Linked DNA regions of Homo sapiens: all the other regions are linked to region 3. Evidence: fine-mapped QTL for protein levels in blood plasma. A gene starts in region 3. Each other region holds a variant in brackets. All regions are shown on one strand. Distances are from middle to middle.

Region 1 (8,188 bases), 550 kb before region 3:
CATCTTGTCTAATTTAATCTTCTCAAAGTTTTCATGAATTAGAGAGATTCCTATTTTTCATTTAATAGATGAATAAACAGGTTCAGGGACTGGCTCAAGTTCACATGGCTTTTAAATGGTGAAATCCAGGTCTTCTAACTCCATAGCACACTAACTCTGTTTCCTACACCAACATGCTGTCTTTCCTGGAGAAAAATATGTCATTTTGGACGGTTTTGTCTATAAAAATAAGAAAAAAATTATTTTGTTTCACATAAAGATGCGTTTGGCATTTTTAATTATGATTGTGAATCAGTGACAGTAAAGAAGAAAAACCAAGGGTAACTGCTGTGTGTCTGTTAAAATGTGTAGAGCATAAAGATACAACTTAAAGTAATGTATTTTCCTGAGAAGATAAATGAGTTTGTACATGCATTATCTCATTTCCTGTGGCAAAGCTTTCTCATCCTGCTTTAAGCACAGACTGGGACATCGAGCCAGCAGGTAACTCCTGATGGAATCCTGGCAGGAGAATTCTGGCTTTACAATAGCTTTCTATCACCCACAAACACTAAGGGAATATGCAAATATTCCATGGAGATCTAATGACTGCAAAAGTGGAATAAATTATGAATTACCTTTTTTTAAAAAAAAATCACACCACACTGTCTTTTACTTCATACATAACCTTGACTTCTTTCTAATTCATGTAAATAATCTGGCTACTAATTCATGAGGAAAAGAGAGAATTTTTTTTTATTCCTAGCATATTGCCTAGTTTCTGGCACATAGGTGCTTCATAAGGGCAAAAATTCAGTATAAATGTACCTATAAAATATTATTTATTATGAAGAAAACCTCCCACTTTCCCACTTGCCTTCTAAAGAAGTAGATTGTTTGATGATCAGTGTGGTGGGTATGAGGATAAAAAGACAATAAAGAAAAGCATGAGGAAATATAAAGATATAAATATTTGATAAGAATTCCAGGAAGCAGAGAAGGATAAAATGAAACTGGAGAACCTGCAATGATGAGTTTCAACAGAAAAAGCAGACAGAAGCTAAAAAAGAAGTTGGAGAGGGATGGAACAAGAACTTTTAGTGGCTTTGTTTTTGAAGGTTTGCTTTATAACCTATGACACTACATTCTGCATCACCCACAAAATCTTTAGTATAGATGTTATACTCTAACACTGTGAAATTGGACTTGTTTGGGAGACATGTACAGATATTCTAAGTTTACTTCAAGGAGGGCAAAGAAGTTACTTAGATCTGTTTCTACTAGCTTAGCTTAGCTTACAGGATCTTTTCATATGTGTAAATTCATAGACTTTTAGAACAAGAAAGATCCTCAGAATTCCTTATCTAACCTTCTAGCTGTACAGAAGAGGAAGCTGGAACACAGAAAAATTTAACTGACTTTTACTCTGTTTCATCAGATCTAAGTGTCATTATGAGATGCACCATTTTTACTACATCACAAGGAAAGAAAATAGAATACTATTAATTAATTTATACACAGCTTTTTTATTATTTAGAACTTTGTTATAGCAATTCTATTGAAAAAATAAACTTTTTGTAATTAAAAAAGTGGCATTAAGAATAAAATACCGGCGTTACTTCTGAGGGCTCTGTTCTGTTCCATTGCTCTATATCTCTGTTTTGGTACCAGTACCATGCTGTTTTGGCTATTGTAGCCTTGTAGTATAGTTTGAAGTCAGGTAGCGTGATGCCTCCAGCTTTGTTCTTTTGGCTTAGGATTGACTTGGCGATGCGGGCTCTTTTTTGGTTCCATATGAACTTTAAAGTAGTTTTTTCCAATTCTGTGAAGAAAGTCATTGGTAGCTTGATGGGAAAGGCATGGAATCTATAAACTACCATGTGCAGTATGGCCATTTTCACGATATTGATTCTTCCTACCCATGAGCATGGAATGTTCTTCCATTTCTTTGTATCCTCTTTTATTTCATTGAGCAGTGGTTTGTAGTTCTCCTTGAAGAGGTCCTTCACGTCCCTTGTAAGTTGGATTCCTAGGTATTTTATTCTCTTTGAAGCAATTGTGAATGGGAGTTCACTCATGATTTGGCTCTCTGTTTGTCTGTTATTGGTGTATAAGAATGCTTGTGATTTTTGTACATTGATTTTGTATCCCGAGACTTTGCTGAAGTTGCTTATCAGCTTAAGGAGATTTTGGGCTGAGACAATGGGGTTTTCTAGATATACAATCATGTCGTCTGCAAACCGGGACAATTTGACTTCCTCTTCTCCTAATTGAATGCCCTTTATTTCCTTCTCCTGCCTGATTGCCCTGGCCAGAACTTCCAACACTATGTTGGAAGAGGGCATCCCTGTCTTGTGCCAGTTTTCAAAGGGAATGCTTCCAGTTTTTGCCCATTCAGTATGATATTGGCTGTGGGTTTGTCATAGATAGCTCTTATTATTTTGAAATACGTCCCATCAATACCTAATTTATTGAGAGTTTTTAGCATGAAGGGTTGTTGAATTTTGTCAAAGGCTTTTTCTGCATCTATTGAGATAATCATGTGGTTTTTGTCTTTGGCTCTGTTTATATGCTGGATTACATTTATTGATTTGCGTATATTGAACCAGCCTTGCATCCCAGGGATGAAGCCCACTTGATCATGGTGGATAAGCTTTTTGATGTGCTGCTGGATTCGGTTTGCCAGTATTTTATTGAGGATTTTTGCATCAATGTTCATCAAGGATATTGGTTTAAAATTCTCTTTTTTGGTTGTGTCTCTGCCCGGCTTTGGTATCAGAATGATGCTGGCCTCATAAAATGAGTTAGGGAGGATTCCCTCTTTTTCTATTGATTGGAATAGTTTCAGAAGGAATGGTACCAGTTCCTCCTTGTACCTCTGGTAGAATTCGGTTGTGAATCCATCTGGTCCTGGACTCTTTTTGGTTGCTAAGCTATTGATTATTGCCACAATTTCAGAGCCTGTTAATGGTCTATTCAGAGATTCAACTTCTAATGCCGCATATCTACAACTATCTGATCTTTAACAAACCTGAGAAAAATAAGCAATGGGGAAAGGATTCCCTATTTAATAAATGGTGCTGGGAAAACTGGCTAGCCATATGTAGAAAGCTGAAACTGGAACCCTTCCTTACACCTTATACAAAAATTAATTCAAGATGGATTAAAGACTTAAACGTTAGACCTAAAACCATAAAAACCCTAGAAGAAAATCTAGGTATTACTGTTCAGGACATAGGCATGGGCAAAGACTTCATGTCTAAAACACCAAAAGCAATGGCAACATAAGCCAAAATTGACAAATGGGATCTCATTAAACTAAAGAGCTTCTGCACAGCAAAAGAAACCACCATCAGAGTGAACAGGCAACCTACAAAATGGGAGAAAATTTTCGCAACCTACTCATCTGACAAAGGGCTAATATCCAGAATCTACAATGAACTCAAACAAATTTACAAGAAAAAAACAACCCCATTAAAAATGGGCGAAGGACATGAACAGATACTTCTTAAAAGAAGACATTTATGCAGCCAAAAAACACATGAAAAAATGCTCATCATCACTGGCCATCAGAGAAATGCAAATCAAAACCACAATGAGATACCATCTCACACCAGTTGGAATGGCAATCATTAAAGTCAGGAAACAACAAGTGCTGGAGAGGATGTGGAGAAATAGGAACACTTTTACACTGTTGGTGGGACTGTAAACTAGTTCAACCATTGTGGAAGTCAGTGTGGCGATTCCTCAGGGATCTAGAACTAGAAATACCATTTGACCCAGCCATCCCATTACTGGGTATATACCCAAAGGACTATAAATCATGCTGCTATAAGGACACATGCACACGTATGTTTATTGTGGCACTATTCACAATAGCAAAGACTTGGAACCAACTCAAATATCCAACAATGATAGACTGGATTAAGAAAATGTGGCACATATACACCATGGAATACTATGCAGCCATAAAAAATGATGAGTTCATGTCCTTTGTAAGGACATGGATGAAACTGGAAACCATCATTCTCAGCAAACTATCACAAGGATGAAAAACCAAACACTGCATGTTCTCACTCATAGGTGGGAATTGAACAATGAGAACACATGGACACAGGAAGGGGAACATCACACTCTGGGGACTGTTGTGGGGTGGGGGGAGGGGGGAGGGATAGCATTAGGAGATATACCTAATGCTAAATGATGAGTTAATGGGTACGGCACACCAGCATGGCACATGTATACATATGTAACTAACCTGCACATTGTGCA[C/A]ATGTACCCTAAAACTTAAAGTATAATAATAAAAAAAAGAATAAAATACCATAGATTAAAATAAGCTTAAGACATTTTAACCAAATATAGTATGTGAACCTTGTTTAAAACCTGATTCCAACAAATGGATTATAAAAATTAATTTTTTATGCCACTCCCTTTTTAATAAATGGTGCTAACTGACTTGCTACATGCAGAAGATTGAAACTAGACCCCTTCCTTACACCATATACAAAAATCAACTCAAGATGACTTAAAGACTTAAATGTAAAACCTAAATCTATAAAAATTCTTGAAGAAAACCTAGGAAATATCATTCTGAATACAAGTCCTGGCAAAAATTTCATGACAAAGATGCCAGAAGAAGCTGCAACAAAAGCAAAAAGTAAGTGAAACCTAATCAAATTAAAGAGCTTCTGCAGAGCAAATGAAACTATTAACAGAGTAAATAGATAACTTAGAGAATGGGAGAAAATATTTGCAAACCATGCAACCAAATAGATCTAATTTCAAGAATATATAAGGAACTTAAACAAATGAACAATAAAAAAAATAACCTTATTAAAAAGTGGGCAAAGAACATTAACAGATGCTTTTCAAAAGAAGACATATACATGGACAATAAACATATGAAAAAATTGCTCAACGTCACTAATTACTAGAGAAGCACAAATCAAAACCACAGTGGGAGAAGTGGAGCAAGATGGCAGAATAGAAAACTCCACCAATCATCCTCCCACAAGGACACCAAGTTAAAAACTATCTACACAGAAAAAAACACCTTCATAAGAACCAAAAGTCAGATGAGGACTCATGGTCCTGGTTTTAACTTCATATTGCTGAAAGAGGAACTGAAGAGATAGAAAAAACAGGCTTGAATTTATGGATGCTACCCCTTTTCCACCCCTGGCAGAGTCTACATGGTGCAGAGAGCTTCTCTGGGCACGGGGGTAGGAGGAACAAAGCGATTGTGAGGCACTGAACTCAGCGCTGTTCAGTTGGAATAGAAAGGAAAGCCAGACCAAACTCAGCTGATGTCCACCACAGAGGGAGCATTTAAACCAGCCCTAGCGGGAGGGGAATCACTAATCCCAGAGGTCCACAGTTGAGTGCCCACAAACCTCACCACCAAGGGCCAAAGTGCTGTCAGTATCTAAGTAAACTTGAAAAGCAGTCCAGGCCATAAGGACTGCAACTCTTAGACGAGTCCTAGGACTTAACTAGCCCCAGAGACACTGGACTGTGAGGGCACGCAACATACTAAGACACCAACCGGGGTTGCCAATAGAGTATTGGCATCACTTCTCCTCTAACCCCAGGATGCATAGCTTGTGGCTCTAAAAAAAGCCCCTTCCTTCCACTTGAGGAGAAAAGAGGAAAGAGTGGGGAGGACTATGTCTTGCATCATGGATACCTGCTCAGCCACAGGAGGATAGGGCACACGTAAGAGACTTGAGGTCCCTTGTTTCAGGCCCTAGCTCCAAGACGATATTTCTAGACACACCCTGGGTCTGAAGGGAAACTGCTGCCTTGAAGGAAAGGACCCAGCTCTGCCAGCATTCATCATCTGCTTACTGAAGAGCCCTTGGGCTCTGAATAACCAGCACAATACCCAGATACTACATGGAGGGCCTTGGGCGAGCCTCTGAGACTTGCTGACTTCAGGTGAGATTTAGCACATTACCAGCTGCTGTGGCTATGGGGCAAAATGCCTTCTGCTTGAGAAAATCAGAGGGAAAAGGAAAGGGGACTTTGTTGCGGACCTTAAGTACTACTGTGGCCATAGTGTGGTAGAGCACCAAGCTGGGTTTTGGGGTCCCTGATTCCAGGACTTGACTCTTGGATAGCAATTCTAGACCTACCCTGGGCCAGAGGGGAGCCCACTGCCCTGAAGGCTGAGTCCCAGGCCAGGCAGCATTCACTACAAGCTGACTTCAGAGACCCTGGGCCTTAAGGGAATACTGACAGTAGTCTGGCAGCATTCCTCATGGCCTGGGGTAGCGATGGCTATGGGTTAAGGCTCCTCTTACTTTAGAAGGGAGAGGGAAGAATCGGAAGAACTGCATCTTGCGGTTTCAGTGCCAGCTCAGCTGCAATATGATAGAACAACAGGTAGACTTCTAATATTTCTGACCTTAGTCCCTGATTCACTGAAGGCACTTCAGCAGCCACCTGGGGCGTGGGGGACATCACTGTCCTGAAGGGAAGGACACAGGCCTGGTTGGCTTTGCCACCCGCTGATAGTAGAGCCCCAGGGCCATAAGCAACCATAGGAAATAGCCCAGGAGTGGTTATAGCAGGCCTTGGGTGACACACTGCACTGTGCTGGCTTCAGGTATGACCCAGCACAGCCATAGTGGTGGTGGCCACAAGGGTGCTTGTGTCACTCCAACTCCATCTGTGGGTGTCTCAGAACAGAGAGAAAGACTCTGTATGTTTGGGATAAAGTAAGACAAAAGAACGAGAGCCTCTGTCTGGTAATCCACAAATTATCCTGGATCTTTTATCCAAGACTATAAAAGTCGTATCTCTATGAGTCTGAAAGAACCACAGCATTATTGGGCTCGGGGTGCCCTCTAAAACAGATACAGTTTAAATCAAAACACCCAAGTTCATTCAAATATCTGGAAAGTCTTCCCAAGAAATATGGCTACAAGTAAGCCCAGACAGTGAAGACTACAATAAATACGTAACTCTTCAATGCCCAGAGACTGAAGAATATCTACTAGCATCAACGCCACCCAGAAAAACATGACCTCACCAAGTGAACTAAATAAGGCACCAGGGACCAATTCTAGAAAAACAGAGATATGTGAACTTTTAGACAGAGAATTCAAAATAGCAGTGTTGTGCAAACTCAAAGAAATTCAAGAAAATATGAAAAGGAATTCATAATTCTAGCAGATAAATTTAACAAAGAGATAAAATAATCAAAAAGAATCAAACAGAAATTCTGCATCTGAAAATTGCAATAGGCATACTAAAGAATGCATCAGAGACCTTAAAAAGAAAAATTAGATCAAGTGGAAGAAAGAATTAGTGAGCTTGAAGACAGGCTATTTGAAAATACACAGAGGAGACAAAAGAAACAAGAAATAAAAAACAAGCACACCTACAAGATCTATAAAATCTTAAAGAGGAGGTAGAGAAAGAGATAGGGGTAGAAAGTTTATTCAACAAGATCGTAACAGAGAACTTCTGAAACCTAGTAAAGATGGCAATATCCAAGTACAAGAAGGTTATAGAACACCAAGCAAATTTAACCCCCCCCCAGAAAAAAACTTCCTCAAGGCATTTAATAATCAAACTCCCAAAGGTCAAGGATAAAGAAAAGATCCTAAAAGCAGCAAGAGAAAAGAAAAAAAATAACATACAAGGAGCTCCAATATGTCTGGCAACAGACTTTTCAGTGGAAAACTTAAAGGTCAAGAGAGAGTGGCATGATATATTTAAAGTGCCAAAGGAAAATAACTTTTACCCTAGAATAGTATATCTAGCAAAAATATCCTTCAAACATAAGGGAGAAATAAAGACTACCTCAGAAAAACAAAAGCTGAGGGATTTCATCAATACCAGACCTGTCCTACAAGAAATGCAAAAGAGAGTATTTCAATCAGAAAGCAAAGGACATTAATGAGCAATAAATAATCACATGAAGGTACAAAACTCACTGGCAGTAGTTAGTGCACAGAAAAACGTAGAATATTACAACACTGTAACTGGGATGTGTACACTACTGTTATTCTAAATAGAAAGATTAAATTATGAGCCAATCAAAAATAATAACTACAACTTTTCAAGACAAAGTACAATTAAATATAAATATAATAAAAAGTTAAAAAGCTGAGGAATGAAGTTAAGGTGCAGAGTTTTTATTAGTTTTCTTCTTGCTTGTTTCTTGATGCAAACAGTGTTAAGTTGTTATCAGGTTAAAATA
Region 2 (8,164 bases), 890 kb before region 3:
CCCTAGCATTTCAATAGTGTCTTTCCTCTCTTGAGTCTTTTCTTATGTTCATCTTTTGGTTAGTTGGCATATTTGTTCAAAAAATGTTTTCCAGAGACATGTAGATGACAATAGGGTTTCTCTTGAGGTGGAGGGGAACTACCTTCCTCCTTCTGATCATTTTTTTCTTGCCCTAGAAGCTTAGGCATAAACAAGGGTCATTTCTTAATCCAGCATATTAATTCTATAGTTAAGATAATTTATCATGTAATTGACAAGTCATCAGTCAATATCCTGCATTTCTAATATTTTGAGATTTATGAATTTTTTGAATGAGTCTTAAACATGGAAAGTTGGAGAATCTAATCTCATCCACAATCAGAATTAAATATTAAAGTTTAGGAAGAAGACAGCATCTCTGAGATTTCTGTGTTTATATTGCAAGGGTCATAAAACTTTTTCTCTAAAAGGCCAAATTGTAAATATTTTAAGCTTTGTGGGATATACAGTCTTTGTCACAATGACTCAACTGTGCAGTTTCTGTGTGAAAGCCGCTATAGACAACATAGAACAAATGGATGTGGTTGTATTCCATCCGACTTTTTCAATGTCAGGTGTCACGCCAGATTTTTGCTCCACTATCAGTGTTTTATTGACTCTTCCTATAGTCCATTGCAATGTCATGATTAAATTGACACCATTCTGTCAAATAGTCTGTTACTGAGTTTCTGTGGCTGGCACAAGGCATTGGGATATTTGTAATGATCCCTGATTTCATGAAGTTTTCAGATTTCAGTCATGCAAATAGCCTAAGACCATAAATTGATTACAACCTTTGTCTTCAGTACAGCTACAATGTATTGATTCACAGCTATTTAGCAGAATGATGACAGACAAGATGTACATGATATTTTCCATGGAATAATATCATCAATGAGTATAGTCAATTTGCCCTAGTTATTACACCTAATTAATTCTTATTCTCAAGGGAATGAATCATGGCTTGAAGGTATGCATTAATAAGGTGAACACTCTGCTGATGCTGACCAATAAGAAGAAAATATTAAGATTAAGTTAAAATTGAGATGAAGTCATAGCCAGTCCAAACATGCTGGTTTGGAGTAACATGTTGGGCTAACATAGCCAGTCAAAACTTTCTATTTGATTAAAAGGTGTACAGACATTCAGGACAGAGCTGTGAGGGCAAGACAAAGATAAAACACCCTAACATTGGAGTTTGAATTGGGCCTCTGAAAGAATTTCCTTACCTACTGAGTAAATGTTTAAAAACATCCATTATTTTCACTATCGCTTTCATTATCCACTATCCATAATCACTATTCATTATCCACACATCCATTATGTTCATTGTGGAAGAATGAAGTTCTCCACCTTTGGTAGTTCAAATCATTTTCCTGAACTTTGAGAAAGACAAGCAGATCAGTGGGCATGTTCCTTGGAGAGGAGCAATGATATAACTCTCATTGATGAAAATACCTCAGGGTATTTTATTTAATTAGTTAATTTATTTATTTTTAAATTTTTATTTTTGGAGGATCATATTAATTTTCAATTGCTGTCATAGTGAAATCATAAACTTACTGTCTTAAAACAACAGAAATTTACTACCTTACAGTTATGCAGGTCAGACATCTAAAATCAAGGTGGTGGCAGGGCTGCATTCTTTCTGTTGGCTCCAGAGGAAATCTGTTTCTTTATCTTTTCTAGCTTCTAGAGGCTGCCTGCATTCCTTGGCTGTGATATGTTCAGGAGGCCAGGAAATACTGGGTAGAAGAGCATGGGGTCCCATGCAAGGGCTCCACCCTCAAGCCTGGGCCCCTGGCCCTAAATGAGAACTTCACATCCCTGTTTTCCCACCCGAATGCTGCTTTTTGGCTTGTCCTCCCCGCTATCCTATGCCCATATAAACCCCAGATCTCAGCTGGCAGAGAGACAAGCTGCTGGATATCAAGAGGAGAAGAAACTACTGAGAGTTGTCAGAGACTATGGATAGACACAGCTTAAATTCAGATGGCACAATTTCAGAGAGGAGGTGTCCAGGCTTTAGGGGAAGATCACCTTCTTCCCACACCATCCCCTTACCAGCGCCCTTCCACCAGAGCCACTTCCATCACTCAACTAAAAACTCTGCATTCATCACCTTGCAAACCGTTCATGTGACCTGATTCTTCCTGGACACCAGACAAGAATTCGGAATGCACTGAGTGCAGGAACACAAAAAGACTGTCACACTGGTCCTTTGCCCTTGCTGGCAGAGGGCAGCCACCCCATGTGATGAGGCAAAAGCCCTGCTGAGTTGGTAACACACCCTTTGGGGCACTGGGGATTGCCGGCACCCCCGCTTCCTGAAAGTCAGCAATAGAAGGCCGAGTACCTCTCATCTCACATTAATCTGACCTTCTCTTCTGTCCCACTTCTTCCACTTTTAAGGTCATTACATTGGATCCACCTGCATAATCCAAGGTAATCTCCATATTTTAATGTCATCTGATTAGCAACGTTACTTCTCTCTGCAAACTTCATTCTCCTTTGTCATATAGCCTAGTATATTTACAGGTTCAAGGAATTAGGATTCAGCCATCTTTGAAGCCATTTTTTCTGTGAAACACAAGGATAAAGTTATGCATAGAGTTAAATAAATTAAATTGAACTTTCCAATAGAGGTATTGATGGGTCCCTAGTCATCCTTACATCTGGTGTACCTGAAGAACGAGGCCAAGCATTTGTTGGAGAATTAGAGTATGCACTCAATTTTATTCTCAAAGCCCTAATTAGGATATCTTATTTACTTAGTGGTTAAAAACATGGGCTCTAAAACTAGAGAGCCAGCACCTCCAGATATAAGGCCTTAAATAGCTGACTTAGCCCTATAATTCAGTTTATTCATCTGTAAAATGGGGATAATAAAAGATCTATTTACCTTGTATAAAGTTGTTGGAATAATCAGAAGAGATAGCATCTAACCTCTTAGAAGGATTTCTGGAACATGGAAAGAGCACATGTACCAAGAGCAAAGGCACAGGTGACTGACTTACTTAAAGGATAATTTATTCCTCCCTTAATATTGTTTGCCTGGAGCACACAGACAAGGAGATAGGGAGTGGGACAGGGTGGGTTTTCTTAACTTTGATCTGGTGTTCATATTATTTTTATTGTGGAAGAATGAAGTTCTCCACCTTTGGTAGTTCAAATTCAAATCATTTTCCTGGACTTTGAGAAAGACAAACAGATCAGTGGGCACGTTCCTTGGAGAGGAGCAACAAGAAAATGCTCCATGAGACTGCTCTTCCTTGAGATGACCTGCATCCCCCATTTGGTGCAGTTTGATATATGAACTGGTAGAATTTGGAATATTGAATTCCACTCATTTTTGTGGTACTCTAGGCCACTCTGATATCCTCTTAACCCCAAATTATGTTTAATTAATAGTAGCTAAAATTCTGCTCTGCCATTATCTTAGTTAACAGAGGTAAACATATAATTAATATCTATATTGATAGGCATAAGTATTTCCATATATTCTGACTAATATGCCTTTATGTTTTACTGCTTTGACACATACAAAAATCTATATCCTAAGCAATATTTCTGAAGAATTCCTGAACCAAAGGTGGTTACAAAATGTTAGAATAAAAAAATAAGGAAACCTCAAATAATTAAAGGATTCTTTCCTAGGCGTCTTTAGGCCGCACTGGCCAGGTTTGAGATTTTGAGATTGAAGATTCAGGACTTATTTTTTTTCCAGCTTTATTGAGGTATAATGGACAAATAAAAATTGTATATATTCAAGATGTATAACATGATTTGCTATACATATACTGTACATTGTGAAATGATTGCCACAATCAAATTAATTAACACCTCCATCACCACACATAGTTATTATTGTGTGTGTCTGAGGGGGTGAGAATACTTAGTATCTACTGTCTTAGCAAATTTCAAGTATGCAATACAGTATCACTAGCTATAGCCATCATGCTCTGCGTTAGATCCCTAGAACCCGTTAGTCTTATAACTGAATGTTTGCACCCTTTGGGTAACATCTCCCCATCTCTGCCTGCCTGGCAACTACCATTCCACTCTCTGGCTCTATGACTTTGACTTTTTTATATTCCACATGTAAGCGAGATCATGCACTATTTGTCTTTCTAGACTGAGAGCCTATTAAGTTACAAAGGTCATTTGCAATACAGCAATCAGCCTTGGCTTCTTTAATACCATGTTTTACACAACTGGGTTCAAGTCACAGTTATTGTGAGAAGATGGCATGCCTGTAGTAATTTTTTTGTACTTTCTAATGAGTATTTATTATTTTGCATGATTTTCTTTTGTAATTTGAATTATATGTACTTATCTGAAAGATGATGACAAACTAATATTAACATTGTTTTGGTGGTATTCTATGCTATTTCCAGCATCCTTGTCAAATGGTTTGTGAACTTTCTGCTCTATTTCCTTAGGCTTGATTAAAACAAACAAAAAGTTTATGTCAGTCATTTTTTGTAGCTAAATAATATATAAAATGCATAAGGAAATAATATTTATTGAGCAGACTATACGCCCCAGACAGCTTAATTTATTTCAAACTCACAACAGTCATTCAAGAGACACATTATTAAGCCTATTACAGTTTAAGAAAATGAGTTGGAGAGGTTAAGCAACTAGCCAAATTCAGACAGCTGGTAAGCAACTGAAGGTAGATTCCTGTGTAAACTCTGAAGTCTCTGACTCCAAGCCCAGGTTCTAGTAACCATATTACTCTGTCTTGTTCAGACCCCGTTTATCAAACTGAATGTGCTAGCCAGAGTGATGCTACCTGATAGTTATGAAGTACTGCAGTCAGTCTTAAATCAGAATTTCCCTGTGGATTTTTAGACCTGTAAATAGCACTCCATTTAACCTGGCGGTACATGAATGGAAAGCCCTGCACTCTGGCACAAGGACATTTCCATTACTCTGCTTTCTGCTGATTCAAAACATTACA[T/C]GGATTTATATAGTGGGAGTAACTGGATTATATGTGTGTCAAAGAGAGTCAAAAGAATAAAATAAAATATATACTTAGGAAAAAACTATATCCCTACAGAGTTCAGTATTAGAAGTTATATAAAATAATTGATGTTTACTTCAGATCTATTCTTCTAAACAAAACGAAACAAATCTACCAATTTTATTTGTCCAAAATTCATCATCAACAGGCTTACTCACTCAGATACTCCATTGTGTGGACAGACAGACCACTTGCACTCACCAAAAAGGTCTAACACGATATGGAAACATTATAGTTAGCCTATTTCTATTTGAAATTTTATATGCTAACAAAATAAACAATGTCTCTTGCATGATATGATTTCCATTCTACTAAGGTTTTCAAGTCTTTCTGCTATTATCTTATTTTACTAAGCAAGTGTTTATTCATTTCCCTGAGAAAAGAATTTTACTTTTTCCACTTCAATAGTCATACACAATCCTCCCCAGTTACTTACAGTGTAACATCTGGTATTTCTAAATAAAACACCAGAAAACCTCTGAATCATAGTAGGAAGAACTAACTAAAATATCAAGTAGTGTAGAAATGATATACTTCACAGAAGGGGAAAAAAAAAAACCTTCCTGCTTGATATAATTGCTCTTTAGAGATCACAAACAATGCTTACATTCTTGCATCTGTGTGGAACAGATCCTTTATGGCATTAAAGGCCTAACTGTTCATTTGATGCCCATGTGTAATTCCTTTTAGAGAAACTAAAAATAAGCTTCCAACAGGCTTACTCACTCACATACTCCATTGTGTGGACAGACAGCAAACAGGGGCAGAGAGCTAAGCCTTGACCCACTTACCACCCTCAGATGGTTCTGATCAATGTCTAAGAACCTATTAAAACCTTACTATTAGGGGATTAAAGGAAATAACAGATTCATCCTGGTTCCCCAGAGCTTTTGCCTTTTTTGGGACAAAATGGGCAAGGTTTTTTGTTTTTTTTTTTTGTTTTTGTTTTTTTTTCCAGATCTTTCCCTGAAGGTATGCCAATGAAATTATATACTCTCATCCTATAAAATGTAGTCAAACTTGATACAGAAACTAGTTCATGAAGATCCACAGAATTCCTATATTGTTACCTAAGAATTACATTTTAAATTCAAATAATACAAGAACTATTCTTTGTTCATGCAGTATATTTGCTTGCCTACAAAAATAATCAGAGTTCCCTGAGCCCTTGTGTTTCAGCAGTTTACAATATTAAATGGTCAACCCCCCTGAGTCCAGCTATCCACATTGCTTGCCCCCATCCTTCCTCCAGGCCATTCACCTGGTTCTCAGGCCTTCTCAGCTGTTCTTTCTGTTCTGCTTTTTGGCTATCACACACTGTCTCCCTTCCTGTTTCTAATGGGTAGATAATTTATTGCTCTCCCCTTCTTGTTACACAGCCTCACTATGTGAGCCCATAGATTCCTTTGTAGGTGGTATTCCTGTTGTTGGACCTGTGGTCTCTCTGGCTGCAGGAAAGGGGTATTGATGATACCTCTAGAAACCTAAGCCACAGTCCAGGCTCCAGCCCTGAGATGCAGGGTCCAGCCTCAGTTTGGCCTCTCACCCACTTAATATAAAAACAATTATCCAGTGAATGAGCAAAGCTATTCTTGGACTTAGAATATTTCTACTGGGCTTTAAAACTTTCCACCTTTATATTGACACAGTCAATAAGTTGCTCTTATATTAAGGCAACATAAATTTATTTTTAGCAAAATTATGCTGATGCTTGATCATTAGACCAAACTCACAAAAATGAAAAAATAAATTATAAGTATTTAGAACTTAATTATTGGTTTCCAGTTTGATACTGAGCTTAAGGACCTGATAAAAGTGTCTTTACATTTCCATCATTGACTGATCTTTCTACAGACAAGTTTACTCTGTTTCTATTCAAGCTCTGATAATCACTAAACCAAGAGGTTTACTTCACACCTTCTTTTATTTTCCTTGCTTCCCTATTGTACAATAGCAAAAGCCTGGACCGGTGGGTACACCAGAGATATCTTGTCCCTAGCCCTTCCTTAAATATTTCATATCCTCAGGTACTGTTTGCCCTCACTTGCTTTTCTTTCTCTTTCTTTTTGCCCTCACTCAGTTGCTTTTCTTTTTTTTTCTTTCTTTTCTTAGTCTTTTTTTTTTTTTGGTAGTGGCATGATCACGGCACAGTGTAGCCTTGACCTCCTAGGCTCAGGAGATCCTCCTGAGTAGCTGGGATTACAGGCGCCTGCCACCACACCCGAATAATTTTTTGTATTTTTAGTAGAAATGGGGTTTCACCATGTTGGTCAGGCTGGTCTCAAACTCTTGACCTAAGGTGATCCACCAGTCTCGGGCTCCCAAAGTGCTGGGATTACAGACATGAGCTACCGCAGCTGGCCTGAAGTGTATTTTCTAAAATAATCTATAAGTTCTCCATATAAGATCTTATTAAATACTTGAATCAATGACAAAACAATAAAATAATTTGTTTCTGATGCCTAAGAAAAATAAAGCTTTGCTAATAGTTACCATATTTGTAGATACATAGAATTTCAATTTAAAGGTTATGGTAATGGTTGAATTTTTCAACGTATTTCTTGATGGAATTTTTCCATATATAATCTGATTTTTCTGATGAATTATTTAATCTGTTTCAATGTGCTTTAAAATTGGGGGAAAAGGTTATGATAATGTATGGAAGCAGTATGGTGCTGTTGGTGACTCAAATTTAGGTATATTTATTACTTGGGTAGAAATTGAAAGAACTTGTAACATTTGCATTCTTTTGTATATAATTAAATACCACATGTATATATAATTTTAAATTTTTGCTAGCTTTTCACACAATTAACTTATTTGATCCTCTTAACAAATTCATAAGGTAGATGGGGTATATTTATTTTTAATACTATTTTGGAGACAAGTAAACTGGCATTAGAGGGGCTATATGGCTTTGGATTATGGTCTCATAAGTCATGCTCACTGGCACCATTCATTCCTTCATTCAAAAAATAGTCATCCCACTATGTTCCCATCACCCTTCTAAACAATGGGAATATGGTGATGAGCAAGATAAAAAATGTTTCTAAACTGATGTGCTTTAACCTCTGTTTCATCTGATAATAGAGATACCAAAGCTAAATAATTGTTTGA
Region 3 (8,180 bases):
TTCTGCTTCCAGGACAGAGACAGTGAGGTTTGATGCTGTCTTGAGCAGCTCCGCCTTCACAGTCACCTGTGAAGGGCAGTGTTCCAGAAGCTCCACCCCAATAGTCACATTTCCTCCGGGCCTGATGATCCCTGGGGCTGTCACCAGAAACCGAGGCCTAAAGAGTTCCCAACAAGGGAAAAACAAAGTTTCTTATCCTCACATCTCCTTTCTTTTGTGACCCTCAGATTTCCTAGTGCGATAGGCACTCCATACTGCGCCAATTGCAGTTGTTTCCGTTAACATTGCCCACTGCTCTATTTGGCAACTGAATTGAAATGCTACTGAAACAACAATAATTCCCATAAATCAATTTTAATGCAGTAATTCATGCATCACTACTAGAGGAAGGCCTGTGTTATTATTTCCATTTTATAAACCACGAACCGCACAGAAGGAACCATGATGTAAATGGCTTGCACCGGGGCATAATGGAGTTATTGGCAAAGCAAAAGTCTCTAAGCTTCTCCTTTACAGAGGACCTTATCCCAGCGTGATTATTTTCTTGTTGTTGTTGTTATTTTTTAACTAAGATTTTGCCTGTTTCTTATTCAAACCTTTATCCTTGAGTAGCTGCCCAACGAGGGTAAAAAATTATTTAACCAATACCATTGATTGAAATATACCATTTGAAAATAAACTACAACTGGTGAAAATTCCAGGTATAGCGAATCATAAAAGAAGTCACTAAAGCAGCACTTTCTCTGCTATAACTAGGGGTTAGGGCTCAACTACAGAAATCTTTAGGAATGAATGGGGCTTGCCATTATTGGGTGCTGTTGTTTTCTTCCTATAATGTCTGCCCCTGAACCCATACATCAGTCCCCTCCGCCACACTTTGGCAATGCTAAGGTTGAGACATCTTGGTTAGAAAAAATATATCATGTCTTTGAGAGAAGAATCGCAATCTGGGAGCAAAAAGTTGAGAAGCAAAAGGCAGAGGCAATGTGGACTAAAAATAAAATGACTCTCTTCAGAAAGTTGTTATGGCCGGGGAGACGCTTAAACAACTTCATGAGTGGAGAAAGTTAACTGTCCCATGGAGAGCCACGCTGAAGCTACATATGGTCAAACCTCCAGGCCAGTACCAGGCTGGGGACTGCAGCCGCGAGGGCATTTCCCACCCGCTGCTGCACAGCAGCCGCCACCTCCCCGAAGCCCTGGCCCAGAGCCGCAGAGCGGCCCAGGCCCGCGCGCCCGCGCGCCCCCCGCGCGCCCACGTTCCTACCCGGGAGCCACGGCCAGCGCGGCGGTGCACACGCAGAGGAGGTGGGCGGCGGTCAGGAGCGGTGGGCCCTGCATCTCGACGGCGTCTGCCTGGGCTACAGTCCGCTGCCGGGGAAGTTCGCGGGCACCGTGGGGTGTGGCTTGCCACCTCCTCCCTGATTTTTTTTCCCTCTTAATTCGAGTTTAGTAATCTGAAATGGGCGCGCCTAACAGCAGAGTGAGAGATCTAAATTGAGACAGGACTTGGAGGCTCCACCCCTCCCATCCCCATTACAATGGCGCTTCTCGCTGCTGTGGCAAACATCGCAAATCCAGGGGGTGAGAAAGCAGTTGCTAAACGCAGGCGGCCCCACCTGGCCCGGCGTCCCAGCTGGCCGCGGAGAACAGAGCGCGCCCACTTCCCCGGCCCACCGGGTTCCTCAGGCTGTTTACACTAGCGCTCTACCAACGATGCCCAGGGTGAGTAAACAGGCCCATCCTTGTGAGGAGAAATTCATAGCAACTATGTGAAGTGGAAAAAAGTCAATCATTGTCCTCCAGACTATGAGTCAGAATTTTAGAGAAACGGCACACACACACACGCACACACACACGCACGCACACGCGCGCAAAACCGGGGCGTATTTCCTGGGTAGTTATTTAATGTATATGAATGGAAACAGAAAAACTATTTTTCCTTAAAACAAAAAATGAGGTCTACTGCTTTCCTTTCCAGGAAAATGTTATGATTTATCACCTTAAAAAAAAAAAGAAGAAGAGAACTCGCACTGCAGACGTTAGGTGTTGCTACTTGGAACCCTGAAAAAAAATTACCTAAGAAGATGCCTTTATATTTTTGCTACAGAAAGAATTTGGTAGAACTGTAAAGCTTGGAGCAATCTCTGAACACAGTTAGGGTTGGGTTGGCTCTCCTGTCAGAATGAAGGCCAGTGGCCGGTGGTGCCCAGGAGTTATTGATGCCCAACGCTGTCTGGCTTCTTTGCAGCTCCTCTCTCCTGCTCTCTGGCACTGCCACCATCTTCAGATGACTCAGGTTTCACCATGACTACACCATAAAAGCAGGGAACTGCCAGAAACTGTTGGAAAACAGACACATTCAGTCCCTGACAACTTAAACTTTCTAATTCATGGAGCGGTTTTAGATGGTAGCATTCTAATATGGGGCAAAATGCAAACGGAAAAGAGGTCAGCAAAAAGATGTCTCATGACAAAGCTATGTGCTAAATAAGGAAAAGTGAGAAAGTAGCACCTAGACAAACTGTGGTTTGGGGAATCCAGAAACTTGCTTTCCTCCCTTTCCTGTTCCACCCTTTTTCTCCCTGCTGAACAGCTTGCAAAGGTCCTTATGTCCTTTCCTTCAGGCAGCCTATCTTTAGTGGCCAACTTCCTGTGCAGGCAGGACTTAGGAATGGTCAAAAGTGTCTGTGTGGATCCCTGGGTGCTGACCTGTTCCTGACACAGCTGTTACTACTGGTCTCCTCACCTCCGTTGTTCAGAGAGGAGGACCATGGTCAAGGGTGGGCCAAGCACCAAGGTCTAACTCAGTGCTTCTCACATGCCAATGTGTGTGAGAATCACATGAAAACAGACTCTGACTTGGCAGGTCTGGAACGAGGACTGGGATTCTGCTTTACTTTAGCAGACAGTAGGCCATGGAGACTCTACAAGTGGGGGCAATTTGGGGGCAATTTGATGAGCAAAGGCAATTAAGAACACAGAAAATTCTTCTCAATCTTTCACTTCATAAAGGTGGATTAATAAATTCAGGTTCATTCTAGAGGTAGGCAAACATAAGAGGGACTGCAAAAGATTAGATGATAATGTTGCCTCCCGAGAAGACTTACAGAAAGTCTTAGAACCACATTGTATAAATCTGTGTGGATTTTAAAGTGATGCCACCTTCCTGTTTATGCCCTCCTTCCCACAATACACACTTGTCGAAAGGCGTAGTCATGCAAAAATTTAGGCATATGGATTTGCATAGAGATGAGGCTATTACATGCCTGGCACAGAGTAGCTATTCAATAAAAATGTGTTAAAAGGATTAATGAAAAATGTTCATCTCAGAAGTGGGATTTTTTATTAAGAAAAACTGAAAATGAGGCCAGGCGTGGTGGTTCACACCTGTAATCCCAGTAATTTGGGAGACCGAGGCGGGTGGATCACCTAAGGTCACGAGTTCGAGACCAACCTGACCAACATTGTGAAACCCCATCTCTACTAAAAATACAAAATTAGCCAAGTGTGGATGGTGGCACATGCCTGTAATCCGAGCTACTCAGGAGACTGAGGCAAGAGAATTGCTTGAACCTGGGCGTTGGAGGTTGCAGTGAGCCGAGATCGCAGAATTGCTCTCCAGCCTGGGCAACAAGAGCAAAACTCCGTCTCAAAAAAAAAAAGAAAAGAAAAGAAAGAAAAGAAAAAAGAAACACTGAAAATGGGCCGGGCATGGTGGCTTATGCCTGTAATCCCAACATTTTGGGAGGCTGAGGAAGGCAAATCACTTGAGGGCAGGAGTTCAAGACCAGCCTGGCCAAAATGGTGAAACCCTGTCTCTACTAAAAATACAAAAATTAGCCCAGCATGGTGGCACATACCTGTAATAAAAGCTACTCAGGAGGCTGTGGCATGACAATCACTTGAACCCAGGAGGTGGAGGCTGCAGTGAGCCAAGATGGTGCCACTGCACTCCAGTCTGGGTGACAGAGCAAGACTCTGTCTCAAAAGAAAAACTGAAAATGGTCTGAACATGTAACAATAAGATATTGGGTTTGCTGTCATTTGGATGTTTGTCGCCCAAAGCTGATGCTGAAATTTGATCCCCAGTGTTGGAGGTAGAGCACAATGTGAGATGTTTGGGTTCTGTGGGTGGATCCTCATGAATAGATGAATGTCCTCCCTGGGGGTCGGGGGGTGAGTGAGTACTCAGTTCCCACAAGAATTGGTTGTTAAAAAGAGCCTGGCACCTCCTGCTTCTCTTGTTTCCTCTCTCACCATGGGATCTCTGCACACTAGCTCCCCTTCCCCTTCCACATGAGTGGAAGCAGCCTGAGGACCTCACCAGAAGCCAAGCAAATGCCAATGTCATGCTTCTTGAACAGCCTGCAGAATTGTAAGCCAAGTAAACTTTTTTTTTTAATAAATTACCCAGCCTTGGGTACTACCTTATAGCAACACAAAACAGACAAAAACAGGATTAAATAAATTACAGTATATCCATGCAATGGAATACTGAAATAATTAAAAACTATTTGTTTAATTGGAGCTTGTTTAACCATCTAGAGACAAATATTCATATGTTATTAAGGAGGGTATATTAGTCTGTTCTCACCCTGCTAATAAAGACATACCTGAGACTGGGTAATTTATAAAGGAAAGAGATTTAATTGATTCACAGTTCCACATGGCTGGGAGGCCTCACAATTATGGTGGAAGGCGAATGTGGAGCAAAGTCAAGTCTTACATGGTGGCAGGCAAGAGAGCATATGTAGGGGAACTCCCCTTTATAAAACCATCATATTTCGTGAAATTTATTCACTATCACAAGAAAAGCATGGGAAAGACCCACCCCCAAAATTGAATTACATCCCACTGGGTCCCTCCCGTGACATGTGGGAATTATGAGAGCTGCAATTCAAGATGAGATTTGGGTGGGGACACAGCCAAACCATATCAGAGGGGAAGTCTGTTTTATAAAACAGAATTTAAATTTCATTTTATTTTTATAAAAAATAAAGTGTATTTATGTGTACATAGACATTACAGATCTATGCACTGAAGAAAGACTTGAAGGATATTCACCAAAATGCTATTATCAGTATCCTGGTGATTACCTGGATATGCCAAGTTTCCTACAATAAATATATATTATATCTCCTTTAAGAAGAAAACAATAATAATATTATTTTAGTAAATAGTTTTTGAGGGGGCATCTTAGAAGCTCTTTTGCATAAAACTTCTGAATTTTGATACCAAAAATATCATCTATGCTTATTGCATGAAAACCTAATGGTCTCTTGGATAAGAACCCCACACTGTTCCTGTGTCCCTCCTGAGCTGTCTTTAAGGTGTTGATATGGTTTGGATCTGTGTCCCTGCCCAGATCTTATGTCAAATCCCCAATTTCGGAGGTGGGGCCTGGTAGGAGGTGATTGAATCATGGGGGCAGATTTCCCCCGTGGTGCTGTTCTTGCGATAGTGAATCTTCATGAGATCTGGTTGTTTAAAAGTATGTGGCACCTCCCCCCACCTCTTTTGGTCCTTCTCCTGCCATGTAAGATACCACGAGCCCATACATCAGCCCCTTCTGCCATACTTTGGCAATGTTAAAGTTGAGACCATGAGTAAAAGCTCCCTGAGGCCTCCCTAGAAGCAGATGCTGACATGCTTCCTATATAGCCTGTGGAACTGTGAGCCAATTAAACTTCTTTTCTTTATAAGTTACCCAGTCTCAGGTGTTACTTTATAGCAATGCAAGAACAGAGTAATTCAATGAGAAAGGCAGAACCACTATGAGTGAGACAGACCCTAAGCAATCATGGGAGCTGGTAGGGCAGTTTGTGCAAACCATTGCCCCTGTGTGTGGTGTGCAGCATAACATAACTATGAGTCAGCCAGGGGAGAAAAGCTAAATGTGGGTAAGAATAAAGAAAAACTGATTGAGAAGTGGAACCCATGTCCATCTTACCACCTCCAACTTCCATGTCATGAGTAACCTGCAGGAGAAGCTGGTGTCCTTTGTCCAGAGCTTCATGTACATTTGGCCCACAATTCAGAAAAACTGAAGGAAGAGAGCCTCTGAGAACTAAAGGAGCTACAGGCCTGACTGTGGCCCTGAACCCACAAAGTGAACTGGCACATTAGTAACAGTATGGACAAGTGTTCCCAACTGCCTAGCACTCTAAACCAAGCTTCAGAAAGTAAAAAATACAGGTGTATGGGGTACCCCACCTCCCCTTTATAGTCTGCTCTGTCCATAACACCAGCTGGAGGCTTTCCTGGGGCCACCTGAGTCCAGGCCCCAATCAGATGGACATTGGAAGGGGTGAGACCAGGACTGGCAGGGAGCAGTTAGTTGCCTTTCTAGTCTCCCTCCCTAGCCATGCACTTTTGCCTTTAGAAAAATGATGGGGAAAACCTTGGCTCCTTCTTTGTCCAGAAAGTGTTAATTGCCTGTGGGTTCTGGTGGCCGGGGAGAAGAGCAGGAAAGCAGAGAGCAGGTGGGTGGCTGAAAGGGAAGAGGGGAGGAACACGGCAGAAACATGAAGGTGACCCTATCTATTCCCCTGGAGAAGGGGTGAGAGGTCAGGTAGAGTAGCTGCTCAGTACACAAAATGTAGAAAGATGATGAGAAAAAAAAATCTGCTACAGTCTTACCACTACCCAGAGACAAGCATTATTTCATTTTGTTGTGTTTCCTTCCTCTCTTTCTTTCTCCACATAATTTGCTGGTATCTTTTTTAAAGAGTAATTATGTTATAAATATAATACAACTTTGTGCTTTGTGTCCTACTTTTCCCATTTAATTATTCCATCATAAGCATTTCCTCATGTTTTACAAACCTTTTTTAAATAAAATGTTCATCAGCTGCAGCCGGGCACGGTGGCTCACGCCTGTAATCCCAGCACTTGGGAGGCCGAGGCGGGCAGATCACCTGAGGTCAGGAGTTTGAGACCAGCCTGACCAACATGGAGAAACCCCGTATCTACTAAAAATACAAAATTAGCAAGGCGTGGTGGCACATGCCTGTAATCCCAGCTACTCAGGAGGCTGAGGCAGGAGAATCTCTTGAACCTGGGAGGCGGAGGTTGCGGTGAGCCGAGATCACACCACTGCACTCCAGCCTGGACAACAAGAGCGAAACTCCGTCTCAAAAAAACAAACAAAAAAAATGTTTATCACCTGCATAATAAAACAAACAAAAGGAATAAAAACATTTTCAGAAATGGAATGGCTCAGAAACTTCGCCTTTCACAAATTCATTTTAGGAAGTTACTTTAGGAAGACATATTTAGCAACGAAGTGAAATAAGCCAAGAAAAAGGGAAATGTATATATAACCCCAGAAAAAAATGAAGAGAGAACTTCTAATAGGAAAAATTCCAGGAGTAAGCTCTTAAGGGAAATAAAAGGGATCTTAATCGAATAGATGTACATAATGAAATACAAGAAAACTGAGACTATGATAAAGTAAAATAGTGCAGTAAAAAGGAAGGGAATTTAGAAATTCAAGGGAAAAGCAAACACTGAATAAAAAAGAATATATCATGATTCATTAGTTGGCTTTGCAGTGAAAAATAATTAGTTGTGTTGATGTAAGTATGGTTTACTGATTTATAACAGAATAAAAGAATTGACAAAGAAGATTTAATTACACTGTTTCACCATTTCTAAAATATATGTTTTTCACATTTGTAACATTTCTGATCTTATAATCAATGGTATCATAATAATAATTGACAATAAATTTTCTTTCTTGGTATTAAAGTAAGTGGTGTATCTTAGATTTGATGAAATATGTGAAATACACAATGTTTACAAAACAATGTAAATGGTGTTAATACTTGAAAAGAGCACAGATGACAAAAACTTACAAAGTCAAAGAGGGATGAAGAATTAAAGCATTGACTGAGACACTAAGAGCCTTATAAAGTAAAAAAAAAAAATGTGTCTACAGTTTTCTTGGATCAAGAAATATGTCATAAGCATATTAAGACTATAAAGTAGTGTAAGGATATAAGAAAAACTGAACCAAAGTGGTTTTCCCACTTTTATACACTCAATATAACACACTGGCCACCAAAATGCATAGAAGAGCTTCTCCCATGCTGACCAAGCAATCAATTCTCTGGCAGATTCTACAGCAGACTCAGCTGAGCATCCTCTAAGTCAATTCAATCCCAACACAAACTACC

Direction of the effects. Alleles are on the strand shown, and positions count from the first base shown. The strength of an association depends on the size of the effect and on how common the allele is.
With allele A in place of C in region 1, the plasma level of the protein whose gene starts at base 1,354 in region 3 is higher (moderate association).
With allele C in place of T in region 2, the plasma level of the protein whose gene starts at base 1,354 in region 3 is higher (moderate association).

The links. A credible set is the group of variants that fine-mapping cannot tell apart. PIP is the chance, under the fine-mapping model, that this variant and not a neighbour inherited with it causes the effect. Protein levels are from antibody-based Olink assays in UK Biobank. Linkage for the fine-mapping came from a reference panel and not from the study's own genotypes, which makes the PIPs less certain.
Region 1: its variant is the best candidate, but not a certain one, in a credible set for the plasma level of the CD109 protein (UK Biobank, PIP 0.52).
Region 2: its variant is the best candidate, but not a certain one, in a credible set for the plasma level of the CD109 protein (UK Biobank, PIP 0.67).

What each region holds. Positions count from the first base shown.
Region 1 is chr6:74,241,429-74,249,616 of GRCh38, reverse strand. The region is part of intron 1 of LOC101928516 (a long non-coding RNA gene); the gene reads right to left. Among named protein-coding and RNA genes, the nearest start is that of CD109, 550 kb to the right of the region's middle. The variant C/A (reference allele first, on the strand shown) is at 4,252.
Region 2 is chr6:74,575,998-74,584,161 of GRCh38, reverse strand. The region is part of intron 2 of LOC101928516 (a long non-coding RNA gene); the gene reads right to left. Among named protein-coding and RNA genes, the nearest start is that of SNORD156, 550 kb to the left of the region's middle. The variant T/C (reference allele first, on the strand shown) is at 4,985.
Region 3 is chr6:73,689,377-73,697,556 of GRCh38, reverse strand. CD109 (CD109 molecule) reads right to left here and starts at 1,354. Exons shown (of 33, transcript NM_133493.5): 1 at 1,268-1,354; 2 at 1-157. The coding sequence starts at 1,341. CD109-AS1 (CD109 antisense RNA 1) reads left to right here and starts at 1,426. Exons shown (of 2, transcript NR_110889.1): 1 at 1,426-1,725; 2 at 1,982-3,654. RefSeq lists a silencer at 1,185-1,234 and enhancers at 797-1,511, 1,465-1,724.